Regions from separate parts of the Homo sapiens genome. Here regions 1 and 2 are each linked to region 3. Evidence: fine-mapped expression QTL. A gene starts in region 3. Each other region holds a variant in brackets. All regions are shown on one strand. Distances are from middle to middle.

The links.
Region 1: its variant is fine-mapped to the expression of DTNBP1 in whole blood (TOPMed, PIP above 0.99).
Region 2: its variant is fine-mapped to the expression of DTNBP1 in caudate (GTEx, PIP above 0.99). The same link has a PIP of 0.9 or more in anterior cingulate cortex, cerebellar hemisphere, cerebral cortex, hypothalamus, nucleus accumbens and prefrontal cortex.

The regions. Positions count from the first base shown.
Region 1 is chr6:15,577,695-15,585,694 of GRCh38, reverse strand. The region is part of intron 7 of DTNBP1 (dystrobrevin binding protein 1); the gene reads left to right. Among named protein-coding and RNA genes, the nearest start is that of DTNBP1-AS1, 36 kb to the right of the region's middle. RefSeq lists a silencer at 2,211-2,411. The variant C/G (reference allele first, on the strand shown) is at 3,394.
Region 2 is chr6:15,517,721-15,526,354 of GRCh38, reverse strand. It overlaps JARID2 (jumonji and AT-rich interaction domain containing 2), which reads right to left. Exons shown (of 18, transcript NM_004973.4): 18 at 4,313-6,286. The coding sequence ends at 6,104. DTNBP1 (dystrobrevin binding protein 1) reads left to right here. Exons shown (of 10, transcript NM_032122.5): 9 at 1,686-1,829; 10 at 3,136-3,548. The coding sequence ends at 3,380. LOC105374947 (a long non-coding RNA gene) reads right to left here and starts at 21. Exons shown (of 4, transcript XR_007059475.1): 1 at 1-21. RefSeq lists a silencer at 3,135-3,321 and an enhancer at 8,528-8,634. The variant A/G (reference allele first, on the strand shown) is at 3,485.
Region 3 is chr6:15,658,376-15,669,058 of GRCh38, reverse strand. It overlaps DTNBP1 (dystrobrevin binding protein 1), which reads left to right and starts at 6,031. Exons shown (of 10, transcript NM_032122.5): 1 at 6,031-6,245. The coding sequence starts at 6,190. RefSeq lists a silencer at 6,035-6,544 and an enhancer at 6,775-6,824.

The DNA of each region.
Region 1 (8,000 bases), 82 kb after region 3:
TTTCCTTTGCTGCTTTCCTTTGAAATGTTTATTTCCATGCCTGGATACATTGCTGTATTTGCATGGTATGCAGATGATATATTATTAAAAAGCAGAAATTAAATTTCAACTTGACTTGAACCTACAAGTAGTACATTTTTATGAGAGCATTATTAGTTCTTTCTATTACCAACAAGTAATAATTACTAAATTAATACCTAAAATAAGTTTAAAATGTTGCATGGAAATGTAGGACTTTTTTTTTTTTTTACAATATGTGTCTTTTCATGCATCAGGTGAAATTAATCAAACTGACATTTTTTATGAAGCAATATTTGTATTAAAAGATAAATATAAAATACCAGGAAAATAATACTAGCTATTTGAATAATGAGGCTGGTACAGCTCCATAAAACTAATTCGGCATCCCTTGCTGCTAGTATGTTCATTTTCCAAGAGGCAGTTAATAGAGTTAAATATGTGAGCCATATCCAAAGATAGTATAAAGTTAAAATTCATTCTATGGTACTATATGGATTTATCTAAAATGGCTGATTTTCAATATGGATTTTGAAAAATGTCATAATGCTTCATACAGGTTGAATATATATATATATATATATATATATATATATATATATATATATATATTCTTTTCATAATTTCATATAACTTCAGTGTATTCCTTATCTGTTAGCCAGAGGCTGTGGTTTTAATGACATCTCTGTGTGGTATTTATATATATATATAAATACATATATAAGGATATTGAAGTTGTGGAACTTACTGCAAAAAATACCTGAAAAATTAACTGTGCATTTTTTGTTGAGTAATTTATTGTACTATCCATGGGGGTGGTAACTGAGGAATAATTTTTAATAGTGATTGCATTTTTTAAAACTCCCTGTTATTTCTTTTAGTTGGCATACGTTATGGCATGTTATATACATCATGCCTTGTCAGGTAGAAGCCACTTCTCTGTAAATGAAAAAAAAAAAAAAAAAAAAAAAGAAATACATGTTGTCTCTCATCTATCAAGGTTATTCTCTTTTTAATATTACAAATTTGAATAAGGTATATCAAACTTAAGAGAAAAGTTCCTTCTTTGTGTCCCTCTCTCACGCCTGTGTATGTATAACATAGCAAAACCTTTCAAGCTTAGATAGACATATTAACAGAAGTAAAATGATAGCTCAGGAATTCATTATAAAATTGGAGCATTAATGGAATCAAATTCTAACTAGAGGTTTTACCACATTCTTATTCATTATTAAGTGTTCAGGAAAAAACTTATCAGTGAGAACTTTGGCATTTATTTTTAAAGTATTTACTTATAGGGAATGTATGATAAATGACATATTTTCTCTTCTCTCAGTCATTATCTTAAATAATGGTTCTAAGAGTAAAGATCTGCATATAGGTATAATCTGATATTCAATTTTAATATTTTAGATCATTCATCTAAGAAATTGCTCCTTGAAAATCATGATTTGTTGGTAAATACTGGCAAGATTTTTGAGGTGTCTGCTCATCTTTTTCTCATATGTCAATATATGTTAAGTGTATATTCGTTTTTTTAAAAGCTGGCTTATATTTATGTAACAGTGTTTAAATAAAGTTAGTATCTATATCCTGTAATACCAAAATATTTATATCCTGTTTGTTAATTTTGGCTCTAAGACAGTTTATTTCTAAGACGGAGTTGATTGTTTATTCTAATACCATGTCTTAAGTTGTCATACTGGGCATGACCTGAAATTCTCTAAGACGATGTTCTATATTGAAGGGGAATTGGCACTTTAACAGCTTGTTTAGGTATTAAACTACATAAAAATAGAGCATCAAGATTAGGGTTGTGATGCTTAAATGTTACTTTTCTGGGATTTCTTGTAATGATCATATACCACCATTGTATGATCAATAATTATAGCAATAGAGTATTTTAGAAGTGAATCAGGACAACGTTTTGTTGTCTATCATAAATGTTTGGTATCATGAATAAATACAGCTATTCTGTTTCATTACCTTTTTGCTGGAACATGGTATAACTTGACAGCAAAAATTATACCTTTCAGAAAACTAAATTTTAAAACCACAAAAAGAAATCTTTGAAAATTTTAGCTGTCAGCCTTAACAAGAGACTTTGTCTGTTGAATTCATATGGAGCTTCATGATTTTGTCTTAGCTTTTTAGAGGTGTGTGCTGGAAAATAACCTGTGGGATCTTGTAGCTCTGCTGATTAAACTGTTGAAGGCAACTGGGATGGAGTTTGTACTTTTCTCAGAAGATTGGTAGTTGCCTAATGGTTTTTATAAACTTCTAGAGTAGGGGAGAAGTCAAGTGGCCAACTGAGCTGAGAAACTCTCACTCCTACTTAAATATTCATCTGGCTTTCCCTGTAAAGGTATGCCTATAGCATAAATATAAGTATATGGGTGGGAGCAGTGGCTCACACCTGTAATCCCAGCACTTTGGAAGGCCGAGGCAGGAGGATCGCTTGAGACCAGGAGTTTGACACCAGCCCAGGGTAACATAATGAGACCCCCGCTCTACAAAAAAATTTAAAAATTAGCCGGGCATGGTGGCATGCACCTGTAACCCTACCTACTTGAGAGGCTGAGGTGGAAGGATCACTTGAGGCTCAGGAGTTTGAGGCTGCAGTGAGCTATGATGGCACCACTGCATTCCAGCCTGGGCAACAGAGCAAGACCCTGTCTCTAAAATAAAATAAAATGAATCAGCATTTGAAATTTGGCTAATTTGTTTTTATTTGAGAAGGAAAATGGTGTTTACCCTAAGATAGGGGAAATAACTAAAGAAGCATTGGAATAATATTGAACTATTTAATATCCCTTTGTATTCTTAAGAATCATTTAAAGTGTTGTATAAAAGAGTAGCATAGGATACTTAATAATATGCTATTCACTTTCAAGTCTCTAATTCCAGTTTTGAAAACCTATGAAATAAATACTATGGTAGATAAAATGGAATTGAACAGTCAGAAACTTACTACATGAAGATGACTCATCAGTTCTAATTATGTTTATTTTTAACTGAAAATAAAAGTATATGTAATAAGAATTATCGTAGTAATTGCAATGATGTGATCAAAAAATAAATAACCACCAGGATTTTTTTCTTTCATTTAGTAAAATTAATGTGGCACAGAATATCAGTCATACCATTATAGGTATATAAGTATAATTCTGTTTATTTCTATTAAAACTCTAATAAATTAGTGAAAAGAAACTACTTATTAGGCATGTACATGTGTTAGCTCTGTACTTTGCATTTCATAGTTAGTACCACAGTATCTCAAGTAGTATCAAAACAACCCTGTGAGATGAGAAAATTGAGACTTAGAGAGTTAAACAAGTCACCCAGCTAGTAAGCATTTCAGCAGGGATTTAAACC[C/G]AGGAACGTCTGCCCTCAAAACCTGTGTTTTTCTCACTTCACCACAGTCATTCCTGGGACGTGCTAAAATGTAAACAATAGAATTTAGACAAGTTTTGAGTTTCCATAGTGTTCAGTGTTCTTTAGGTATTGCATTTATATCCAGTCCCTTTCCCCCATTCTCTTTCTATACCGCAAACTTTGAATAGCTAAGTAGCATATTGAGATTTCATCTTTAACTGTATTTGAACTGCTTCCTGGTCTTGCTGTGTAATGCTCCTTTAATACAGGGCTATTCTAAGAATAAAACCCAGTGTTTAAAAAAAAAAGATGCTGATTTATGCTGCAGAACCCTGGAAAGATTCCTCTGAATTTGAGATGTGGGTTGAAGCTCAGGGCAGGATTAGAAGAAAGACTAGTAAGGCCTCTAGCTCCCCTCTGCACACTGTGTCCCCCTTGGACAGGAAATATTTGACCATTCTTAAAGTCAAATCTTCTCTATTGCAGATGCTGATTTCTGCGTAACAGTTTTAAAAGAATTTCTGCCTGGGCGCGATGGCTCATGCCTGTAATCCCAACACTTTTGGGGGGCCAAGGCAGGTGGATCACCTGAGGTCAGGAGTTCAAGAACAGCCTGGCCAACATGGTGAAACCCTGTATCTACTAAAAATACAAAAATTAGCTAGGCGTGTTATGCTCCTGTAGTCTTAGCTACTCTGGAGGCTGAGACAGGAGAAGTGCTTGAACCTGGGAGGCAGAGGTTGCAGTGAGCCAAGATCTCACCACTGCACTCCAGCCTGGGTGACAGAGCGAGACTCCATCTCAAAAAAAAAAAAAAAAAAAACAGTCGGGCGCGGTGGCTCATGCCTGTAATCCCAGCGCTTTGAGAGGCCCAGGCGGGTGGATCACGAGGTCAGGAGTTCAAGACCAGCCTGACCAAGATGGTGAAACCCTGTCTCTACTAAAAATACAGAAATTAGCCAGGCGTGGTGGCAGGTGCCTGTAATCCCAGCTACTCGGAAGGCTGAGGCAGGAGAATTGCTTGAACCTGGGTGGCAGAGGTTGCAGAGAGCCGAGATGGAGCCACTGCCCTCCAGCCTAGGCCACAGAGTGAGACTCCGTCTAAAAAAAGAAAACAGAAAAAGAATTTCTGGCAGTCTCCCCTTTTCTACTTCTTTCTAGCCATTGTATCTTAGAAAAACTTTGAAGTCCTGTCATCCAACACCTCGTCCCATGTAGAGTCCGTTTATGAGCAGTCCTGAAGGTGTTTACGTGGTGTGTTGACAGTTCACACTCTCTACCAACCTTCTAAGGCTTCAGAGTTGTAGTTCCTTGACCTTTTCTTTTCGTGGTAGCTGATTGTAGATGCTTTATTCTCCTGGTCATTCTTGTCTAGACCCATGCTAGTTTTCCAATACCCCATATAAAAATGGTGTTTGTACCTGCACAGTCTTCTAGAAACGGTGACTGTGACTATAGCTTTTTAGTCACCTTTTCTGCCAGTCAGCTCATGTTTAACTACAATGCCCAGATCTTTTTAACATGAAAGTGCCCCTAGTCTTTATTTTTAAAATAACTGTAAAAGCAATGCATCCCCATTGAAGACAGGAAAATTTAAAAAGCTTCTGGGAAAAAAATTGAATCACTAGTCTGCAATAGCCTCAAACATTTTTGAGGTTTATATACACACACACATATATAGACATATCATCCAAAATTGGAATAGCATACAAACAATTTTGTTTCCTGTTTTTTCCCCTTATGAAATGAGCATTGCCTCATGTCATTAACATACTGTTTTCCTATTGTTGGAAATTTAGGTAGTTGCCAGTTTTATGCTAAGCATAACTTGTGCTGTAATAAGCATCTCTATACGTACATAGATAGGGCCACAATTTTTTACAGCCTAAGTGTATTACATTTTTTAAGGCTCTTGGTGTGTATTCATCGTTAGCTTTTTAGAAGGGTTGTTCCAGTTTATACTTTCATTAGCAATGTCTGTGACTTTATCTATTTCATAGACCCTCACCTGAGTATTTTTTTCTTGTCTTTACTAATATGAAAGCAAAAATAAAATTTGATTATTGTTTGAGGTGTGACGGGAGGTAAAATGTGATTTATCGGCTTTTTATTGTTGTTATGAACTGTTTTTGCTTCTGGCTGCTTTCAGTTGCAGTTTTAGTGTACTTGTAGATTTGAATGAAGGGGTTACATATTAAGGGTTTCAAATTGTCATATTTATTGCAGATATTTATCTTCAACTAATTATTTGCCTTTTAATTTTGCGTGGTTATTACACACAGAAGTGTAATATTTTTTATTCAAATGAATTGTTTTGCTTTTATTATTTTAAATGGACACATAATTGTACATATTTGTGTGGTACACTGTAAAGTTTTGATACATATATGTAATGTGTAATGAGTAAATCAGGATAATTAGCATATCTATCACCTCAAACATTTCTTTGCATTGAGAACATTCAAAATTCACTCTTTTCTTTTTTTCTTTTTTTGAGAGGGAGTCTCACTCTGTCGGCCAGGCTGGAGTAGTGCAGTGGCACGATCTCAGCTCACCACAACCTCCGCCTCCCAGGTTCAAGTGATTCTCCTGCCTTAGCCTCCCAAATAGCTGGGATTACAGGCGCCTGCCACCATGCCCAGCTAATTTTTGTATTTTTAGTAGAGACAGGGTTTCACCATGTTGGCCAGGCTGGTCTCAAACTCCTAACCTCAGATGATCTGCCCGCCTTGGCCTTCAAAGTGCTGGAATTACAGGCGTCAGCCACCGTACCTGGCCAAAATCCACTTTTATAGCTATTTGAAAATATACAATAAATTGTTATAGTCACCCTACAGTGCTATAGAACACAGGAACTTGTTCCTCCTCTCTGTAATTTTGTATTTGTTAACCAACATCTGGTTAACTCTCCGTTCCCAGCCTCTAGTAACCACTATTCTAGTCTCTACTTCTATGCAGTCAAGTTTTTTAGCTTCCATATATGAGTGAGAATATGCAATACTTGTCTTTCTATGCCTGGCTTGTTTCACTTAATGTTTTACAGGCTCATCCATGTTGCTGAAAATGATAGGATTTTGTTCTTTTTTATGGCTGAATAATACTCCATTGTGTATACATACCACATTTTCTTTATCCATTCATCTGTCGATAGACATTTAGTTGATTCCATATCTTGGCTTTTGTAAATAGTGCTGCAAGAAACATGAGAGTGCAGCTATCTAATCAAAATACTGATTTTCTTTTCTTTGGTAAATATCCAGTAGTGGGATTGCTGAATCGTGGTAATTCTATTTTTAGTTTTTTGGGGGCACCTCCATACTGTTTTCCATAACAACTGAGATAATTTACAGTCTGACCAACAGTGTCTAAGAGTTTCCCTTTCTCCACATCCTCACCAACACTTACCCTTTGTCTTTTTGATAATGGCCATTCTGACTGTAGGAGATGATACCTCACTGTGGTTTTGATTTGCATTTCCCTGATGGTTAGTGATGTTGAGCATTTTTTTCACATACCTTTTGGGCATCAAATGAATATTTTTAATGATACCTTCCATTGCTTTTCTGCATGGAAGATTCTCTCCCAATCCTAAGAAATAAATATTAGCTTGTTATTTCTTCCAGTTTTTATTATAGTTTACTTATTACTTTAACTCTACTTAATCTAGAACTTATTTTGATTTACAGCATGAAATGACCACTCAATATTTTGCCATATAAGTCATTAATTTTTTTAGTACTATGCAATAATTCCTTACTTTTCTCTCCCTCTGTTGCTGGAAAAAATGTAATTGGTTAAATTCCATCCTGCCTGCATGGTGTATGCCCCCGAGCAGCTGAATGTAGCTAGAAGAAAACATAACATCCTTTCCTGAGTTCTCACTTCAGATGTTGTCCACAATTCACTAGAAAGCCTTCATCCAGGCTGGCAATCCTAGTACATTCCCCTCTGCGCACTAGGAGAATGCTCTTTTCTCAAACTGGGACATCCCCTCCCTGATCCCATTCCTCATTGCTTTCCTCTGATTTCACTGAGGAACTGGAAGCAGTCAGAAGAGAAGGGCTCTGTGCTCCCTGCACTAACACCCCCTCCTCCCAGCGTCGGCTTACTCTGGCTTCCTCGCTGGCACCGTGGGGACTGTCCCTGCTTCCACAGCAAGCCCCTCAGTGTAGGCGCTGGACTCCTTCCTTCTCTCCTGCCTAAGGGCTTTGCTCTGGCAGCGTTGTCCTCTCTCTTCTGCACCATCAGTGCTCACCTCTCTGCAGAATCGTCTGGCAGTTGTTCGTACTGTCCACATACTTCACTATTCTTTTCCTTAATCCCTTTTGCCTGTAAAAGTAAACACATGACTAATAAAACTGACATTACCACCCAAATTATGTTGGCTACAATATCTTGGAAAACTACACTTGGAGAACTACACTTCAGGATTCAGTCCAAGCTCTTTACCTTCCCACCGGAGATGTTGAAGTGCCTCTGGGGTTAATCCTTGGGCCTTTTCTCTCCTGCATTCTTATTCAGTCCCAAGGCTTTAAATACCACCCAATGCTATTGGCTCCAATCCTGGCCTCACCCCTAAATTCTAGACTGGTTTATCCAGCTCTCCG
Region 2 (8,634 bases), 140 kb after region 3:
CGTGTCTTTGTTCAGGAGGGTAATTTGGCCTTGGTGACTCCTCGTTATGACTGTTCCATTCCAGGTTTTACATTAACTCACACACTCACACGTCTCTTTGCTTAACATGCTTTCTTGCACTCAGCCCTTCCTTCACTATGCCTCTAGCGAGAGCAGGCTCATAATGACGTGTTTCTTCTTGGTCTCTGCTTTTCTCCTGGATCTTAAACGATACCTAATGTTACACCATTTTAGAGATGACATTTCTCTCTCCTCTTTGAACTTACTCCGCAGTCTTCTGGCTTTTATTATTGTTGTTCATGAGTTGCCTGTCATCCTAATTATTTCCTTCTCTTTCTTAGCCTGCCCTCTCTCTCTGGCTGCCTTTTAGAGAGCCTTTGTCTTTTGATGTTCTTCAACTTCAAAGCAATTGGTGTAGGTGAAGATTGCTTTGATCTTGCTTGGAATGTTTTGCTTTTTAAATCTGGGTCCTGAGGTCTTTCATCGATTTGGGAAACTCATCAGCTTCTTTGAATAGAGTTATCTCCCCTTCTTGGCTTCGGGGAAATGTGACCAGATGCTACGCTTCTGCATCTTTCGTACCTTTTATGCTCTCTTGTATTTCCTTTCTTTGTTCTTCTATGCTGCATTATGGCAGATTTACTCATCCTGCCTTCTAGTTTATTAATTTTCTATTGGGCTGTGACTGTGCCCCGAGTTTGAGATTTCAGTCTCTTCTACCTAGTCATTATTTGGCTTTCAAATGTCTGTCCTTATTTTTGACACCTTGTTTTTGACTTCACCTTTCCTGTGACTGTGGTGTATGAACAGCCATCTCATATTCTTCAGCGAGGATGATGTTTGTTTCTGCTGCCCTTCACTCGGAGTGGCTCATTTCATGTGTGTTACAAATGCCAGATTGGGTTGGGATTGACTTTGTTTAAACCAAGGTTAAGGGAGAGTCCTTCCAGAAATAATTTGCATTTGCTTCTGCCAGGCATTCCCCATGGCTAGGATAACTTACGTGGCTTGTGGTTTTCTGGACCATAGAGGTCGTTTGCCTATGAGTAAAGACCTGTGGGGCATCCCGTGCTCAGTGCCCGGGCAGAGGCCAACTAGGCATGTGCTGTTTCATGGGGTCGCCGTCTGCTGGTGGGCTGGGTTTTGTTTTCTCCTAGTCTGTGCTTCCACTGCAGGGAGCTCTTACAGCTTACAGATGTAGGTCAAACCCCTTCTGCCGTTAGGCCCGAGAAATGTTCCAAGGCCAGTGGAAACTCCACTTGCAATTAGAGGAGTGCGCCTGCCGGGAAGGTTCAGGGCACCTGTAGGCAGGAAGCAGAGCTGTGGCTGGCAGGGAGGAAGGTCGCTAACTGTTGCTGCAGGAATGTTGGCCTCTTTGAGACAGGCTGAGCGTCCTACTCAAAACAGCCGGGACTCACTTAATGCAGAGATTAGTCTTCAGCGTCCCAAAGGGCTGGGGATGAACAGATTAAGGAAGTGTAAAAGGTAATAATAGTTGCCAAGGGTGATTTAGGATGCATTTAAAGTGCCAGACTGGCATATGTCATCTACTAATACGTTGCTTCAAATTCCATTTTGAAGGAAGCTTAGGAAATGCAATGTAGTTAGCCTAATGCCAATGGAAGTTCACCTTTTAAAGTAATATTAAAGACAGCGTGTCCTTTCTCGTGTTGATCTATCCGCAGAGCCCATAGGCAGCATGTCATCCATGGAAGTGAACGTGGACATGCTGGAGCAGATGGACCTGATGGACATATCGGACCAGGAGGCCCTGGACGTCTTCCTGAACTCTGGAGGAGAAGAGAACACTGTGCTGTCCCCCGCCTTAGGTAGGGTTGACAAACTTGCATTAGCTGAACCAGGGCAGTATCGATGCCACTCCCCTCCAAAGGTGAGACGTGAGAACCATCTGCCAGTCACTTACGCATAAACCCCCAAGCTCACAGCCAGCTCCTGGCTCCCTAACCCCACGGTTCCACACGGCTGTGTGGCAGCTGCAACAGTGGTGTGGTTCCGTCATGAATTCTTCTCAAAGATTTGACATGCTCCACTCCGGTAACTTTGGTGAGTTGAGAGCTTTCTTGTTTGTTTTCCCTCCTTTACCACCCAGAAATCCATTTGAGTCTGCTCCTTGTGGTTAAGGACTGGCGTTTGCAGGGAGGTGCGGACTCTCCTGCGGGGCTCACGGGAAACTCTTCCCTCTTCGTGCGACAGGCATTTAGGGGCGTGCCTGCCATGGGCAAAGCCATGGTGTGTGTTCAGCTCTTGGCCTGTGTTGTAAACTTAGTTGCACTTCAGTTCCTTTCATCCCTTCACAAAATTTTGTTTCACATTCATGCAGCAAATATGGGCTGAGGTGCCAGACCTGTACCTGGGCTTGGTGCGTTTCAAATTTCAGACCAGTTCTTTGGGCTGGGTCAAGGCAAAGCTCAGTCGTCCCAGCAGCACCTCAGCCATCTGTAGAAGGTTCTACCATTACCACGGTTTCAGCTTCCTCTAAACTTCTCACCCGCTTCTCCTGGCAATCTGTCAGAACGGTGTCATCCTGGGGAAGAGAAGGAGCTTGGGTGCATTTGCCCTCATCCTGAGAAGGCCAGAATACTGGAGACCAGCGTGAACCCTCACCCAGAGTCAGGGGAAGATTTAGAAACAGTGACACCTGCATATAGAATTTTGATTCCTTGAAGAGCCTATTTAGTTCCATAAAATTGGAGAACTGCTGAAGGTCAGTAATTCCGACTTTCTCAGCAGTGGTGTCTCTGAATTACTGCAAAGGGTAAAAAAAAAAAAAAGAAATCTAGATTATCAAGGTTACAAGGACTGCTCCTCAAAGATAGGCAGCACTTGCCTTTGGGCCTCTATTACACGCGTATTACAGCCTTAGGAGCACTTGATCTGTGTCACATGTGGCTGACTCCTTAGGGGACAGAAGGGTCACCGCAGGGCCTGAGGCTGCCTCTGGCATCGCTCAGCTCAGTGTCTTCCAGGGCAGTTCCCAAGTTCTGCAGGCCCCAGGTGCCTGGAACAAAAACCACACCCCCCTTTCATGACGGGCACATTCCACAGCTGTTGGCGGCAATTCTGATTCACAATATTTTTATGACAGGGCTTTTTCTTCCCTACGTTATTTTGCAGGGCCTGAATCCAGTACCTGTCAGAATGAGATTACCCTCCAGGTTCCAAATCCCTCAGAATTAAGAGCCAAGCCACCTTCTTCTTCCTCCACCTGCACCGACTCGGCCACCCGGGACATCAGTGAGGGTGGGGAGTCCCCCGTTGTTCAGTCCGATGAGGAGGAAGTTCAGGTGGACACTGCCCTGGCCACATCACACACTGACAGAGAGGCCACTCCGGATGGTGGTGAGGACAGCGACTCTTAAATTGGGACATGGGCGTTGTCTGGCCACACTGGAATCCAGTTTTGGCTGTATGCGGAATTCCACCTGGAAAGCCAGGTTGTTTTATAGAGGTTCTTGATTTTTAC[A/G]TAATTGCCAATAATGTGTGAGAAACTTAAAGAACAGCTAACAATAAAGTGTGAGGACGGTAAACTGAGAGCGCACAGAGCTAGTTTGTACACAAAGGCTTCTAAATACACATGTCCTTAAGGCCACTGTAACTCAGGGTTCCTTAGAGTGAAGGGACGTGCAGGTCATTGAGGGCCACCCCGGGAGGTTGCATGTGGGCAGGGCCTGGGCCAGGTGGTGGAGGCTCCACAGGGCTGAGTTCTGCATGAGGCAGGGAATGACCTACCGTTTCACAAGTGGAAAATGCCACTTCCTGTAGAAGAGCTGACTGTAGCCAAACCACTCTGGCAAAGCTTGGGGTTTTCCGTTGATCATTACAGAAGTAAGTAAGTATCATTAGTCCAGTAGCCAGCCAGTCCAACCCCTACTTTTTCACACTCCTGGGCCCAAAAGAACAGAAACAAGCCCAAAGCAATCCTCCATTCTTTATGAAAAGAAACTGGTCCCCTGGAGATGTGTTCCTGCCATCACTCCTCCAGCCCAATGAGAGAGAGGGGACAGACTCCCCGCCGGGATGAGGGGGTCTGTCTGTCTGCAGCCATACCACCCTGAATGCACCCAGTGTCGTCTCATCATGAAAGCAAGCTCAGCAGGGGGGCGCAGCTCGATGGGAAATGAGGGGGACGGCCGCAGGCCACATGGAAACCATTAGGTTAGGCTGAAGGGGACCCAGTGGCAGGTGGGAGCAGGACTGCAGTGTGGGGGGTGGCTCTGCTCCCTGGCTGGGGGGAATCCTCTGCCCCCTGCCCGTGGACGAGAAAAGAAAGAGCTCATTCCATTCAGTCATCTTCCACAAGACAGACAAATGTCCAAAAAACTTTGTTTTTATTATTAAACCTTGTAGTACAAACCTGAAAAGTAAACAAAAAACTCGCAATAAACCACATGAAGTCTCCCTCCCAAGGGAGGGGTGCAGAGCAGCGCTAATAAATTAAATGTCAAACTGTAAGCCATAGGCAGAAGTTTACTGTCAAAAAGAGGGAAAGTACACAGCAAGGCCATAGAAACCGGACAACCACATTGGAAAACACTTGACTGTTTCTGTAATTGTTAAATATTCCAAAACAGTTCAGTCTTCTGCAACAACAACCAACAAAGTGGATCATAGGACGTTCCTGGCAGTCACCACTGGCAAGCTCAGTGCAATATGGGTAGCTACGGGATTGATGAATCCAATTATGAAACAAAGAACAGCTTGTGAAAACAGTTTCCCTTTTTTATTCCACACATACTGTACACACAACCGGAGAAGGGCAACAGCTACTCCATTATTATTTTTTTGTTGTTGTTCAGTGATGTAAGCAGCACTTATAAATGTTACAAGAAAAACCCTGTAAGCATCCAATCCAACCGATGAAGAAACTGAAATGTAAGGCTTTTCTTCATCTTGTCTTCTCACCCCCCTCCCCACCCCCCACCGAGAAAAAGGCTCAAGTATTTAAAACAATTTACAGGCATATGTACAAAAGGGATGGGATTTTTTTTTCTTTTTTCCTTTTTGTTACAACATGAAGAGAAAAAATAGACAAGATGAACGCAAATGCATTTTCACATTCAAAAATAACTGCAGGCCTCCTAGTGGCTCTCTACATGATCATAAATGAAACAAGTTTTAAAAGAAAGATTAATGCTGACTTGTGAAGGTGTCAAACAAGAAGCGGTGAGATGGAGATGGAATGTTAGAAAGATTGCACGTCGATGACAAAGAAGCACTTACGGCTTCCATCACTTTTTTTTCCTTTTTTTTTTTTTTTTTTTTAAATCTTAAGGATGCTATTGAAGGGTTTTTTGATAAAGTAGCCAACAGCACCAAAAAATAACAGAATGGATTTCCTAATGAAATCAGGCACAGGTCTCCCTCATGTGACCCCTCCAAGGCAGGCAGTCTTTTCCGTCTTCCTCGCTCGCTTTTCTTCTTTCCTGGAACAGATGCATAGTGATGTGCTGGTGGAGAGCCCACTCGCTCCCGTCTCCTCGTTCCACCTATGGTTAGGAAACAACGTCCGCCTTCAGCTGCCACAACCGCCCAGAGAAACAAAACGGGGGTGCCCCGGCTTCCCAGATCACAAGCTCATCTGGCACACGGCAGAAGACGACAGCCAAAGCAAAGCCATTTCAAGTTTCGTGTGTGTGTGTGTGTGCGCGTGTGTCTCCTATCCCTTCTAAAAAATCTGCTCACATGACTGATGGTTTTTAAATTTGTTCTCCAAACTTCACCCTCTTCAAAAATGGGTTAAAAAGCCTTTTTCCCCCCAACAGTTACAAAAAAAAAAAAATCAAAACCAAAAAAAAAGGCTTTTGTCAGCCATGGGGCAATACAAATTAATACAGCCCCTCCGGGGTTTTTAAAACAGTGACTATACGGCAGTTTCCAAAATCTGACTGCAGTATCTAGGTTTTCTAAGTACAAAAAAAAGTTCAACAGTTTAATGCTAAAACAAAATTAGTTCTCTAAAACCAGAAGAAAATCTTCTTTAGAGCTAGTGCAAAGACAGCTTGAATCCTACAGCAAGTACTCCAAACTAGAATATAATAATTACAAAAAAATATATATAAATCGACCACGGGCGTTGGCATCTTCATGATGAGCTCGAAGCACTTTTGGATGAACTGGAGGCTGACAGACGGGAGGGGGGCACGTCCACTGTCGCTCTCTTGCGGGGACCTCTTTTTGGTGTGGGTTTACTGAGACAGTTCTCAATGCTGCCGTTTTTACCAGACACTTTGCCGCAGATCTGATTGACCAGACTGATAATCTGTTCCTGTTTGGGGGTGAAAGGAAGACACAGTTAACATACCGTATTAACAAGAGCTCTGTCCCTGAGAGCCATGCAGGGGCAAGTTTAGGGCAGAGGGCAGCGGTCCCCTTCACCACACCAACCAACAGGTTTTAAAATAACCCCGAGAGGCTCAGATGCAGTGAGTCTCCCTTTCCCAGCTCCTCCTGATGCCACATAGCAGGCATGGCCGTTTCATCCTCATCAACACCCTGGTCCACCATGCTTTGCCTGCTCATAAGGGCAGGGCTGGCAGGGGAGCCCAGAGCACTGCCTCTACCACGGAGCACTCAGCAAAGAGACCCAGGGGCTTTGTTACATCCTGGATGGTGACACAAATACCCAAGCTACTTGACTCACTTTAGCTACCGGCCACTGAACCTGGCCATGCAAGTAAATGCAAACACTTCTCAACCTATACATATCCTTGTAATTCACTCAAGAGAATCATTTATCTGTCGGCACCAAAAACTGTGTTTGTAACTTTCACACAGTACATCCTATAATCATATCATTTTTAAAAACAACATGGGGAGGAGTAGCAAACGTGCATCTTATGAGCATCTCTCTGGGCCACGGGTGGCTGGGAACCATGCTGACCCTGGCAGGAGAGGAAGCCAGCCATGGAATGAAACATCTGAGGGCCTGATCTCTAGTCCTCTGAAAAGCCCTCAAGATGAGGGTGAGAAAGTGACAGCTGGCTCCCATCACAAGTTAAAGGTGCCTTCGGAAGGCGGGGCGGTCCACACGTATCTGTAATAACACCATAGTCATGGCTGCTTGAGGTACTGATGATAAACACTGATAAAGGATAAGTGGATGAGCTGCCATAAAACCCATTTAGGCGGCTACTGCTACCTTACCATAAGGACAAGTGAGGAGGAGCGGCAGTGTGCGGTTACAGGAGGACACCGTTCCCTCCCCTGCGTGCAGCTCGACAGGTGGGCAGCACCTGCCCCAGACCAGTGCTCTCACACTAGGCTCGGCGGCAGGCGGCCCAACACCCTGCTCAGCCAGCCTGCAAGGGCCAGAGACACAAATGGCTCCAAACTCCCCAGAGAGCTTCACCATCCATGAGAACCCAAGCCATGAATTCAGGGATTTGCAATCTAGGTGCACCCCCCACCCCAGCAAGGGTGGGTGTTTAAAGCAGACTGTCCCGGGTCAGCAGGCCCAGACATGGGTGATTTGTGTACTGGGCACACTGGGAGGTTGAGAAGATTTTGCAATGGTCTCTGTTTACAAGGTAGAAATTTCCTATTTAAAAGAATGGGCCAGGTGTGGTGGCTCACGCCTGTAATCCCAGCACTTTGGGAGGCTGAAGCAAGCTGATCACCTGAGGTCAGGAGTTTGAGACCAGCCTGACCAACATGGTAAAACCCTGTCTCTACTAAAAAGAAAAATTAGCCGGGTGCGTAGTGGCGGGCACCTGTAATCCCAGCTACTCCAGAAACTGAAGCAGGAGAATGGCGTGAACCTGGGAGGCGGAGCTTGCAGTGGGCCGAGATCACGCCACTGCACTCCAGCCTGGCGACAGAGCGAGACTCCGTCTTAAAAACAAAAAAATGCACAGCTCAACAGGGGACAGAGGCACAGACATGCTTACTGAACTACTCAGCCACTACAGAGTATGCAGTTTCCAAATACCTTTGCTCCTAATTCATCAAAACCAACCATTAGGTCTCAGACAGCCCCTGAATGCCATTCTTTTCCCAGGATCTGGTCACGTCACACATCCGACTACAGAAACAGGCTGCTGGTGAGAGGTACAACCCATGATTCACAGAGCGCTTTCCAGGCAGCCAGAGGAAGCCTCCCCGTGCCGCCGCCTGCACCCCCACAAGGTGCCAGAGCCATGCTCGTGCTCAGCCGCAAAGGCTTCGTTATTTGCAACTGTGCCTGGACATTTGCTGCTAAGGTGAAGGAGGGACACAGCAGGTGCTTACTGCCTTCACCCAGCATGCTCTTTGAAACAAAACAGATGCAAAGAGTTCTTCTTCCAGCTCTCCGATCATTTAGCTCAAGGCTTATCCAGTGAGACCCACCACTTGGCCCCACTGCCTGGGCCCCCAGACACACCAGGCCCCTCACAGTCATACCCGCAGCACCCACCCCACTCAGTGGCCTCAAATGTGCAATGACCACAATGTGGCGACCTTCCTCGTAACCAGCCTCATCAGAGTCTGTGGGAAGCACACGTGGGGAAGGCGGGCAGAGCAGGGGAGAGGCACTGCTGCCAGGAGTTCCGCCACTCAGAGCGGCCCCCAGCTGCACAGGCTGTGTGTTGTTATGACCCCCCTCTCCAGAAGAGCGTGGCACCTGCAGGAAGGCAC
Region 3 (10,683 bases):
AAGGAGGAGACATCACCTTAGACCAGTTAAACCAGGTGCTCTGGGGGTGCTGAGGTCAGGCACTGGTATTTCTAAAATGCTCCCCATGTGATTTGAAGGTGCAGCCAGGCTTGAAAACTATTACTTAACTGCAATTATAATCATCAATTATTTTAACTACTAATGATCAATTATTACGGCTCCCCCACCAGCATGTATTGACCTGATAGTTAGCTCTAAGTAATCATTGTCTCAAACTTTTTTTTTTTGGCCACTAATTCTTATTAAAGAGTTTCAGTTTGTTATTAAGTTTTCCCACACAAATATATTTCTATGGCACAGTAGTTCAGAAGATGTGATTTCTGAGATGTATTCTCTCTGGGGGAACCATCTATTTGTAAGAGTACAGGACGTGGTTTCCTTTACTCATGTAGAGTCCCTACGCTTTGATGAATGGAGTCACTTGGTCGTTTATGGATATCTTATAGACCATATAGATCCAACCATAGAATAACAAAAAATAAAAGTTTTCCTCCTGTAATGTATCTTTATAGATTATATAGATCTAAACACATATTAACAAAAAATAAACGTTTTCCTCCTTTAATGCAACAGTGTAGTGCCTTCTTTTTTCATCTGAGCAAAAAGATAAGGTTAGGTGCCCAGTCATTTTATGACAGTGGGATACAATTTTGGAACACAAATAGATGCAGCTGAGATCCTTTTACTGTTCTTTCCGTTCAGCTCAGGTAAAATACTCATTTCCAACCTTGCTGTCACTCCCGACAGTGCTTGCCGTCTAGATCTATTATTATAGCTTCTGTCTTCCGACCTTGATATTCTCTAACTACCCCCTTCTCTCCTGTTCTTCAGCTGCGTTCTAATCTTTACTCTCTGAGGTTGGAACTCTCCTCCTTCACCTCCCTGATTTCTGTCTCTGCTTTTCTTTTCAAAATGCTGTGCTGATATCACCTTTCCAGCTTTATCTAGCTTACCTCATTCTTAAAAATACTCATTGCTTCACGAGAAACATTTACAGCTTTTACATGGATTCTTCTGTAACCATTAAACTCTTAAAAATTAAAGATATCAAAAATATTTACATGTTGGCTTTTTAAAAACATCACAAATAATAACAACACACTGTAAATATCTTTACAAATCTAAGTCAGGTTCCTGCAAAGCAATTAACCATAGTCCCTTTCCAATTACTCTAAAAGAGCTCTGCCAATGAAATGGTATGAACTTTTCTGGGTTCTACAGCCCCTTCTTTTTTTTCCTGCTTTTTTTTTATTATTATTATACTTTAAGTTTTAGGGTACATGTGCCAAGTTGGTGTGCTGCACCCATTAACTCGTCATTTAACATTAGGTATATCTCCTAATGCTATCCCTCCCGCCTCCCTCCACCCCACAACAGGCCCCAGTGTATGATGTTCCCCTTCCTGTGTCCATGTGTTCTCACTGTTCAATTCCCACCAATGAGTGAGAACATGCGGTGTTTGGTTTTTTGTCCTTGCGATAGTTTGCCGAGAATAATGGTTTCCAGCTTCATCCATGTCCCTACAAAGGACATGAACTCATCATTTTTTTCACTGCATAGTATTCCATGGTGTATATGTGCCACGTTTTCTTAATCCAGTCTATCATTGTTGGACATTTGGGTTGGTTCCAAGTCTTTGCTATTGCGAATAGTGCCACAATAAACATATGTGTTCATGTGTCTTTATAGCAGCATGATTTACAGTCCTTTGGGTATATACCCAGTAATGGGATGGCTGGGTCAAATGGTATTTCTAGTTCTAGATCCCTGAGGAATCGCCACACTGACTTCCACAATGGTTGAACTAGTTTACAGTCCCACCAACAGTGTAAAAGTGTTCCTATTTCTCCACATTCTCTCCAGCACCTGTTGTTTCCTGACTTTTTAGTGATCGCCATTCTAACTGGTGTGAGATGGTATCTCATTGTGGTTTTGATTTGCATTTCTCTGATGGTCAGCGATGATGAGCATTTTTTCATGTGTCTTTTGGCTGCATAAATGTCTTCTTTTGAGAAGTGTCTGTTCACATCCTTTGCCCACTTGTTGATGGGGTTGTTTTTTTCTTGTAAATTTGTTTGAGTTCATTGTAGATTCTGGATATTAGCCCTTTGTCCGATGAGTAGATTGCAAAAATTTTCTCCCATTCTGTAGGTTGCCTGTTCGCTCTGATGGTGGTTTCTTTCGTACCACCCCTTCTTTAATAGCATCTTTCTCTTTGGTTCTAACTCCGCCAAATCCTCATTTATCACTTTGTCTCCAATAAGAATCTGCTGAGACAGGAAACCCCCTTTCATCAACGAGTAGGGCTTCTCAAATGTTAACATGAATAAAAATCACCCGGGGGGTCTTAATAAAACTCAGATTCTGATTCAGTAGGGCTGGCTGGGGCCTACGATTCTACCTTTGCAGGAAGCTCCCAGATGATGCGGCTGCTGCTGGTCAGGGAAGCACTATTTCAGGAAACTTCTTAGCAGCTTTGGTGCTCACCCCAAACGTTGTATCACCAAAGCTTTTCCTGGGCGCAACTAATATGCTCTCAAAAAATCAACTCTCTGCTGGGCGCGGTGGCTCATGCCTGTAATCCCAGCATTTTGGGAGGCCAAGGCAGGCGGATCACTTGAGGTCAGGAGTTTGAGACCAGCCTGTCCAACATAGTGAAACCTTGTCTCTACTAAAAATACAAAAATTAGCTGGGCGTGGTGGCGGAAGCCTGTAATCCCAGCTACCCAGGAGGCTGAGGCAGGAGAATCACTTGAACCCAGGAGGTGGAGGCTACAGTGAGCCAAGATTGCACCACTGCACTCCAGCCTAGGTGACAGAGGGAGACTCCGTCTTAAAACAAAACAAACAAAAAAACCCCAAACAAACAACAATCAACTCTCAACCAATTCCTGAATTAAGATTAGGTCAATAGCTTCCATACTGATGTTGGTTCTCAAACTGTACTTAAAAGCTTTGTTTTTTTTTTCATTTTGCCAATCCATCTTCCTAGTTTCTGGCTGATTACTGTTACTTATGTAAACACGACATGTCACATGCTTCAACTCTTGGTCCTTAATCATTCCTCCTGAGCAACTCATGTACAACAGTAGTTATTTTCTAATTTTTTTAATATTTACTTCTTTAAATCATAAATTATCTTTTTATTAGCACTTTTAAAACTTTCACTGTTTTTTAATTTAATAGATATGATGGAATTAAGAATGTTCAGAAAGCACCTCAAATACAAACATGCCATAGACTAATAAACAGTGCATTGGTCAAGACAGAAATGATCAGGCACAACCAGTAAAGCTATTTTTTAGTGACAGGCAAGAGTCTTTTTTGAGTGGATTTGGTGCTTTGTTGGAATGTATGAAACTTAGTAAATTGAAAGCTTATGTGTAGAGTTTAATTGAATAAAAGAAAAAAATTTAATATTTCCCAGTACTTGTGGTTTTCAAATCTACTAGATACTAAGGGACCTGTCTGTAGATTTGATCATTTGATCACTTGCTTTGTTCCAGGCACTGTTTCTGAGAGGTAGAAGAAGGCTCAATAAACAGCACTCCTCTTTCTTACTTGTCTGAGCAAACTGAGAAATAAAACAATAGTGTCAGCATAAAGAGGCCAAAATATCACTTTTATATCTAGGAAGACTGATGGAACACATGGCTTATATTCATGGGCAAGCAGAACTTCTAGTACCCAGTCACAAAAAGCACTGGGTTGCCCTTCAAGCCTGTCTTTAGGCAGCAGAATGAATGCTCTTTGTTGGAAGTGTTCACTCAACAAAAAGAAAAGAAGATGAGACCAAGCTCCTTACTTCTAGCTCACTAATCATCGTAGTCACCTCTTCCCCACCAGGAGAGGCTGGGTACTTCTTTATGTTAGCAGAAGAGCTCCCTTCCCATGGAAGAAAACATCAAGAGTGGGGAAGAGGTGGTCCCCCAGCTACAAGCTAAGTCCTTTATCTTATTTAACTCCTGCAACAAGACATTTACTGGGTGTCTGTTATGTGCCATTCACTGTTTTCATTGCTGGGGATGCAAAGCTTAATAAGACAGAGCAGTTTACATCTGGGCCTGTACTTGTGCTACTTACCTCACTGGCCTCATCCAATCCCAGCCCTAACAGATCCTGTGTATTTAAAATTTTGATATTTTGTTCATCACAGATTTTTTTTCATTAATTTTGAATTTTTTAAATATTGTATTAAAATATTACTTATCTTGATTACTGAGCTTTTTGGCTCCCGTAAATTTTGTACCTGAGGTGAATGCCTTATTTGTCGTGGTTTTAAAATATGTTTGTAAACAACTAAATTAATAAATAGCAAATAATTATTGAATAAATTTTCTAATGTGTACTAAGTTGAGAAACAGGCTACGTGATAGGAAGTGATTGGGTGTGTAACTTGAATGGTAAGTAAAACCTATCTAATGTGATGCTATTTAGGATGTGACCCTTATGTTATAAGGAGCCAGACAAGGGACAGTTTGGAGAAAAGTTTGTGAAAACACCACAGGTGGAAATAAACCTGGAATTTTCTAAGAACACACCAAAAAAAAAAAAAAAAAAAAGGCTATTATGTCTTAATTGTCAAGGACATGATAGGTGACTAGTAATCAATTTGGATACAGTGCTAGAAAACATTCAAATTTTAGGGCTTTTTAAGGGGGTAAGTAGTTTGAATTTTATTCCAAGTGCCCAGGAGGCAATTGGAAGATTTTAAGCAGGGGAGCAACGTGATCCGATTGATCTTTTAAATAACTCTTTCTGGCTGCTGTGTCAAGGATGGATTATAGGGGTGTGTATGGCAAAAGAGTAGAATCTGGAAGAACTGTCTGTGTTCCCATTGAAAGAGGATGGTGCCTTCGACCAGGATAAATATAGTGAAGATATAGAAAGAGAAGGAGGTTCCAGAAATACTTCAGGAGTAGAGTTGATTGGATTTGATGGGTTAATATGGGGAATGAGGAAAAGAGGGGAACCAGAGGTGATTTCAAGTGTCTTACCTTGAGCAAATTGGTGGATGGTGGTGTCATTTACTGAAACGGAAAATACAGGATGAGCAGATTAAAGGTGAACATGCAATGAATGAAATTTTCAATTTTGTGTATGTTGGTCTGAGATGCCTTTTGGATACATGTTGTATACATGCTTACATGAGTAAGCAACTGGTATGAATTGACGGAGAGGGAGGAAGGACAGGGCAGAAGATAGAGCTGTGGGAGTCATCGGTTCCTTGACAGAATTTACAGCGTGGTAATGGATAGACTCTATGCTATCCATCTATGGAACAACACATCTGGAGAAGAGAGAAGAGCTGGGGAGGCTGGACTGTAGCCTTGGGAGTGGCTATTAAAATAGGAGAAGGGGTGGAGCGGAAGGGAGAGAGGAACTATGGAGTGCTTAGCAAGAGAAGAAAGTGTTTTAAGGATGGGGATGATAAACTGCATTGAAAGCCACTGAGAGGTGGAGAAAAAATCAGGGCAGAGAAGTAATAAAAGGCATCAGCAACATGGAAGTCACTGGTGACTCGCGAAAGGCGATCACCTTTGGTGTGTAGGGCACAAAAGCCTGGGGGGGTAAAGAGAGAGTGGAAAGTAAGAATGTCGAGACAGTCGACTATTATTGCCATTTTATGAATGAAGAAACCGAGGCTCAATATTTGACTGTCTCATTCAAGGTGAAAGCCAGTGGGGTCAGATCCTGGACCTAGAATCCATGCAATGATTTGTGCACATCGCCTATTGAAGAGAGAGATCCAATTCTCTTCCAAAACGTAAAAGCCAACACTTCCCTCAAAGGAGGCTTCGAGTTAAATCATCCTTTCACGATGCCGCTTCCATTTTAAAGAAAAAAAAAAAAAAACGAGAAGGCCTGGTGCGGGATAGGAATGAGCCGAGGAGCTACTGGCCCTCTCGGTCGGGGGAAGACCCGCCCCTTTTCCGCAGCCCGAGCCCGGCGCAGTCCACTGCGGCTGCGCGAGCCTGGCGCGCGCGGGGCGGGAACGCGGAAGGGGCTGGGGTTGCGGCGCGGCGGCGAGGACCAGACCGGGGGCGGGGCCGGTAGTGGGAGTGCGGGGCGCGCGGTGACAGCGCGGGGTTGGCGGCGTGGGACCCAGGGGGCGACAGAGGCAGCAGCAGCCCGAGGCCTGAGGAGAGGAGACCGGCGGCGGCGGCAATGCTGGAGACCCTTCGCGAGCGGCTGCTGAGCGTGCAGCAGGATTTCACCTCCGGGTGGGTATACGGTGGGCGACGAAAAGGGACCTGAGGGGGCCGGGCCGCCGCCTGGGATGCCCCTGCCTCGCTCCCTTCCCCGCGCCACGGTCCAGGGTCCGTCCTGTCCCGCACCTCCCCGCCCCGCCCCGCCGAGGAAAGTAACGAACTTCCCGGCGTCCTCGCGTCGGGCGGCGCAAAGTAACTTAGGTCCCTGCGGGCCGCCTGTGACGCGCACCCCCCAGGACCGGGAGGCGCTCGGCGGCGCAGCGGAGCGCCCGGGGGGGGTGTGGGACCCTGCGGTCCTTTCCCGGCAGCATCAGCTGGGCCCTGGAGGGAAGTCATGTGAGAAGCCAGCGCGCCTCACCGCTTCCGCCCCCGCGGCACAGTGGCCTGCGCCCCTCGGCCCAGCAGACACCTGCTCGTGCGCACCTGGAGCTGGGCCAGCCACCCTCCCCGAGTCGGATCGCACCGCGCAGCAGCCTGCACCCTCCGGCCACAGCCTTCCGCGCCGCGTCTCGGCTTTCACGCCCGGCTCGCCGGCCTAACCCTTGGCAAGGCTGGCCGCCCCTCCCCGTTGCGTCCTTTCTCTACCTTTGCCGTGAGCTCAGCGCCTCGGCGAAGGAACTCCTAAGCAGGAGAAGCGACAGAACTTTAGGAATGCTTTTAATACCCAGCGGTTCCCAAACTTTGCTTAGAATCACCTGGGAACCTTTCAGAGTTCTGATGCCCAGGTCTCACCCCCTACCTGTTGACCAGAGTGCCTGGAGACGGCGTTTTAAAGATCCCCAGGGGATTCCAGTGGGCACCAACGCCTGGGAACCACAGGCCGAGACTCTGGCGCCAGATTGCCTAGGCATCCTGGCTCGACCACTAAATCAAACGTAGTTACTCAGCTGCCTTGCCTCAATGTACTGTTTCCGCTACCGTAAAATGGGGATAATGATGGTACTTAAAAGGTTATTACAAGGATTAATGAATTAATGTGTAAAACACGAAGCAAGCATCATGTCAGTATTGTTACTTAGTGCTTAATTTTAATTTTTTCATTCCTTTAAAGTGAAAAAGATCTGTCTTTGAAAAGGATCTTTCAACTTTAGCTTACAAATCCTGTTGGAGGATGCACTGAATGTGAGAACATTTCCACTCATACTGTTTTAAATTTCTCCCCCCCACCCCCCTTTTTTTTGAGATGGAGTCTTGCTCTGTCACCCAGACTGGAGTGCAGTGGCGTGATCTCGGCTCACTGCAACCGCCGCCTCCCGGATTCAAGCGATTCTCCTGGCTCCACCTCCTGAGTAGCTGGGACTAGAGGCGCCCGGCTTATTTTTGTATTTTTTAGTAGAGACGGGTTTCACCATATTGGCCAGGCTGGTCTCGAACTCCTGACCTTGTGATCCTCCCGCCTTGGCCTCCCAAAGTGCTGGGATTACAGGCGTGTGCCACCGTTCCCGGCCCACCCTCCCCCCCTTTTTTTTAAAGTGACAAGTTCTCGCTCTGTTGCCCAGGCTGGAGCGCAGTGGCGCTATTATAGCTCGCTGCAGCCTCCAACTCCTGGGTACAAGAGATCCTCCCTCCTAGGCTTCCTGAAGTGGTGGGATTATGGGTATTAGTCACTGCGCCCAGCCTCGTTTTAAATTTCTAATGAGAAAGATGTTAGCCAAAATTTTATCTTAATGGACAAAAATGTTAATACTATTTGCACATTGGGCGTTGAATAACAAACTGTCAAACGCTTGAGCACTTACCATGCGTCAATCATTTTTGTTAGTTTGGTGTTTAGAAAGTTATGGACGCTCGGAGTCATTCACTGATGGGTGTGCTTGCGTGCTTGCATTTTGTTCTCCCTATTTAGTAAAAGTACCTTCTTTTCAGAGCGTAAATTATTGTATTGAAAACTTTTTGGTGTGATGCTGAAATGGCCCATTTGTAGCATGAGAGTGGCCATTATTCTCCTGTTAGTACTTCATGGAATTCCTTGATGGCACAAGAGCCCATCTTGTAGTTACTATAACTCTAGGTCACATGGTTGCCTCAGAAGCATTCATGCTCCTGACCTTTGTAAGAAGGCATTTTACCCCGGAATGTAGATTCTGGAGTGGGCTCTGGACTGCTGGGGCACAAACCATCCTGGGAGATCAGGGTAACCCTAAACGTTTAGAGTTAGTTAAGGAGAGACATGCCAAAGGGATCTAGTTAGAACCCCTTGGAAACTGACTTGACTTCTTAAAGATGCCGTAGTCTGGGGCCATTTTGGAGCTAGACATCCTGAGAGGGCTTCATTAGGTCTTTTGTTGGCTTTCTCCTGTACAGGTCACTTTCAGCTGACAAACCACTGGACTGTCAGTGTGTGCCATTAGCCTGTCACCTGGTGGAGAAACAACTCATCTCCAAGTGATGTCAGTCTCCCAGTAGACCCGGACCTCTAGTGCCTGATGTTCACTTTCTTCAGGTCCTCAATTTCCTACATTTAAGCTGTTCGGTTAAACTTTTCCATATTCAGCTTGAGATCAACCTCCTTTACATAACTGATTATTTTTGCCTTGAGGAGAAAAGATGACGCTAAACACAGCACACATGTGTTTATTATATGTTGGTAATGTGGAATTCAAAGATGAAAGAGACGTGAGCTGCATCACTAAAAAAGAAACATATTACATAAATGCAATGCTGATATCATAGATAATAAAATTAACACTAATTTTTTGATATTATCAATTATGCAGTCCATAATCAGATTTGTTTTGTGCTTAGAAATGACTTTTTACAGTTGGTTTGTTCAAATCCAGATCAGATAAGTTTCACACATTAAATCTGTTTAAAAACCAATTTTTAAAACAGACGACTGTTAAAGGGCCACATGGGGAAGCTTTATGGAATCTTCCAACAATTTTGTTGTCCCAGCTACTTGGGAGGCTGAGGCAGGAGGATCCCTTGAGCCCAGGAGTTCAAGACTGGGCAACACAAAGAAACCCCATCTTTTGGCTGGGTGCGGTGGCTCACACCTGTAATCCCAGCACTTTGGGAGCCCGAAGCAGGCGGATCATGAGGTCAGGAGTTCAAGACCAGCTTGGCCAACGTGGTGAAACCCCGTCTCCACTAAAAAATACAAAAATTAGCTGGCCATGGTGGCGTGCGTCTGTAATTCCAGCTACTTGGAAGGCTGAGGCAGAAGAATCTCTTGAATCCAGGAGGTGGAGGTTGCAGTGAGCCGAGATCACACCACTGCACTCCAGACTGGGTGACAGAGGGAGACTCCGTCTCAAAAAAAAAAAAAAAGAAAGAAACCCCATCTCTTAAAAAAGAAAGAAAAAATGAAAAAACATGGCCCTGGCCACCCAGAGCTATCACATTGGACCTGGCGTTTCTGTAGAACACTTGGTGGCAGAGCAATTGTGTGGAAGCCAGAGCAGCTGCCTTCTAAAATAATTGGAAACACCGGGTGTGCAGGCTGCCCCAGGGATGGAATGGAAGGCCTCAGGCATTTCTGGGCTCCTTCAGTGCAGCCAGTGCAGCTCCCGCTGTCGCCCAGAGCAGCATCCTCTCTTCGGAGCTTCTGTGATCATTTTCACTTTCTGAAAACTCATATGAAGGCCCTAACTCTAGATAAATTTACTTTTTTTCATTTTTAGTAAAATAGAACGATTCCTTATCAGTCTCAGAATGTCACTTTGGTGATGAAACCATGTCCAATAAGAATAAATTTCTACATTCCATTCAAACTTTGAAAAAGTGCAGCTTAAGACCATTGTTCTTTAAGGGCAGTGTAGAGATTACTGGTGGTTTGGGGGGAGCTCTAGGTTGTCCATGGACTTATGGCCTTTTTTGTAAATTTTTATGCGTAGTAACAATTATGTCAACCTTGAGAAAAACTAGTGATTACATCACATTCTTCCTGCCTTAATTGGGTGGTGGGCCAGCCTTAGGCCACAGACTGAAGAGGATTGGTTCTGAGCTTCACTCAAAGATCTTTTCCCCTCACCTAAAGTGAGTTGTAATTTGATTTAACTGAGTCAGAATTCTTGGAGCCTTTTGGAGAGTTCACATAAAATATCCATTTTTACAGAGATTGGCTTGAGCTCTGGGGAAGACTTTTGGACATACCAAAGTACATACTTCGAAGCCACTCTGGTCTTTGACTTTTACCTTTTGAGCTGTTACGACCAAAGGCCTCAGGATTGAGGTATTTAGGCATGCAAACCCTTCAGGGAACTGAAAATCAGATTTACTGACGGGTTTACAGCTGCCTGTCACAGGCTGGTGTTTCCTATTTGTGATGCACTGGGTTCCTGTGGTTGGGGATAAAAAAACCTGCTATTGTTGCAGCTAGAGGGTGTTTCCCCCTCAAAGCCCTCACTGCCCCTGCCGCCCACCTGCACCCCTGCCCAGTGTCCTCATTCTGTCTTCTTCCGTCCTTGTAGTATCTACCAAAACCTACACAAAGGGGGTTGGAGCCAGT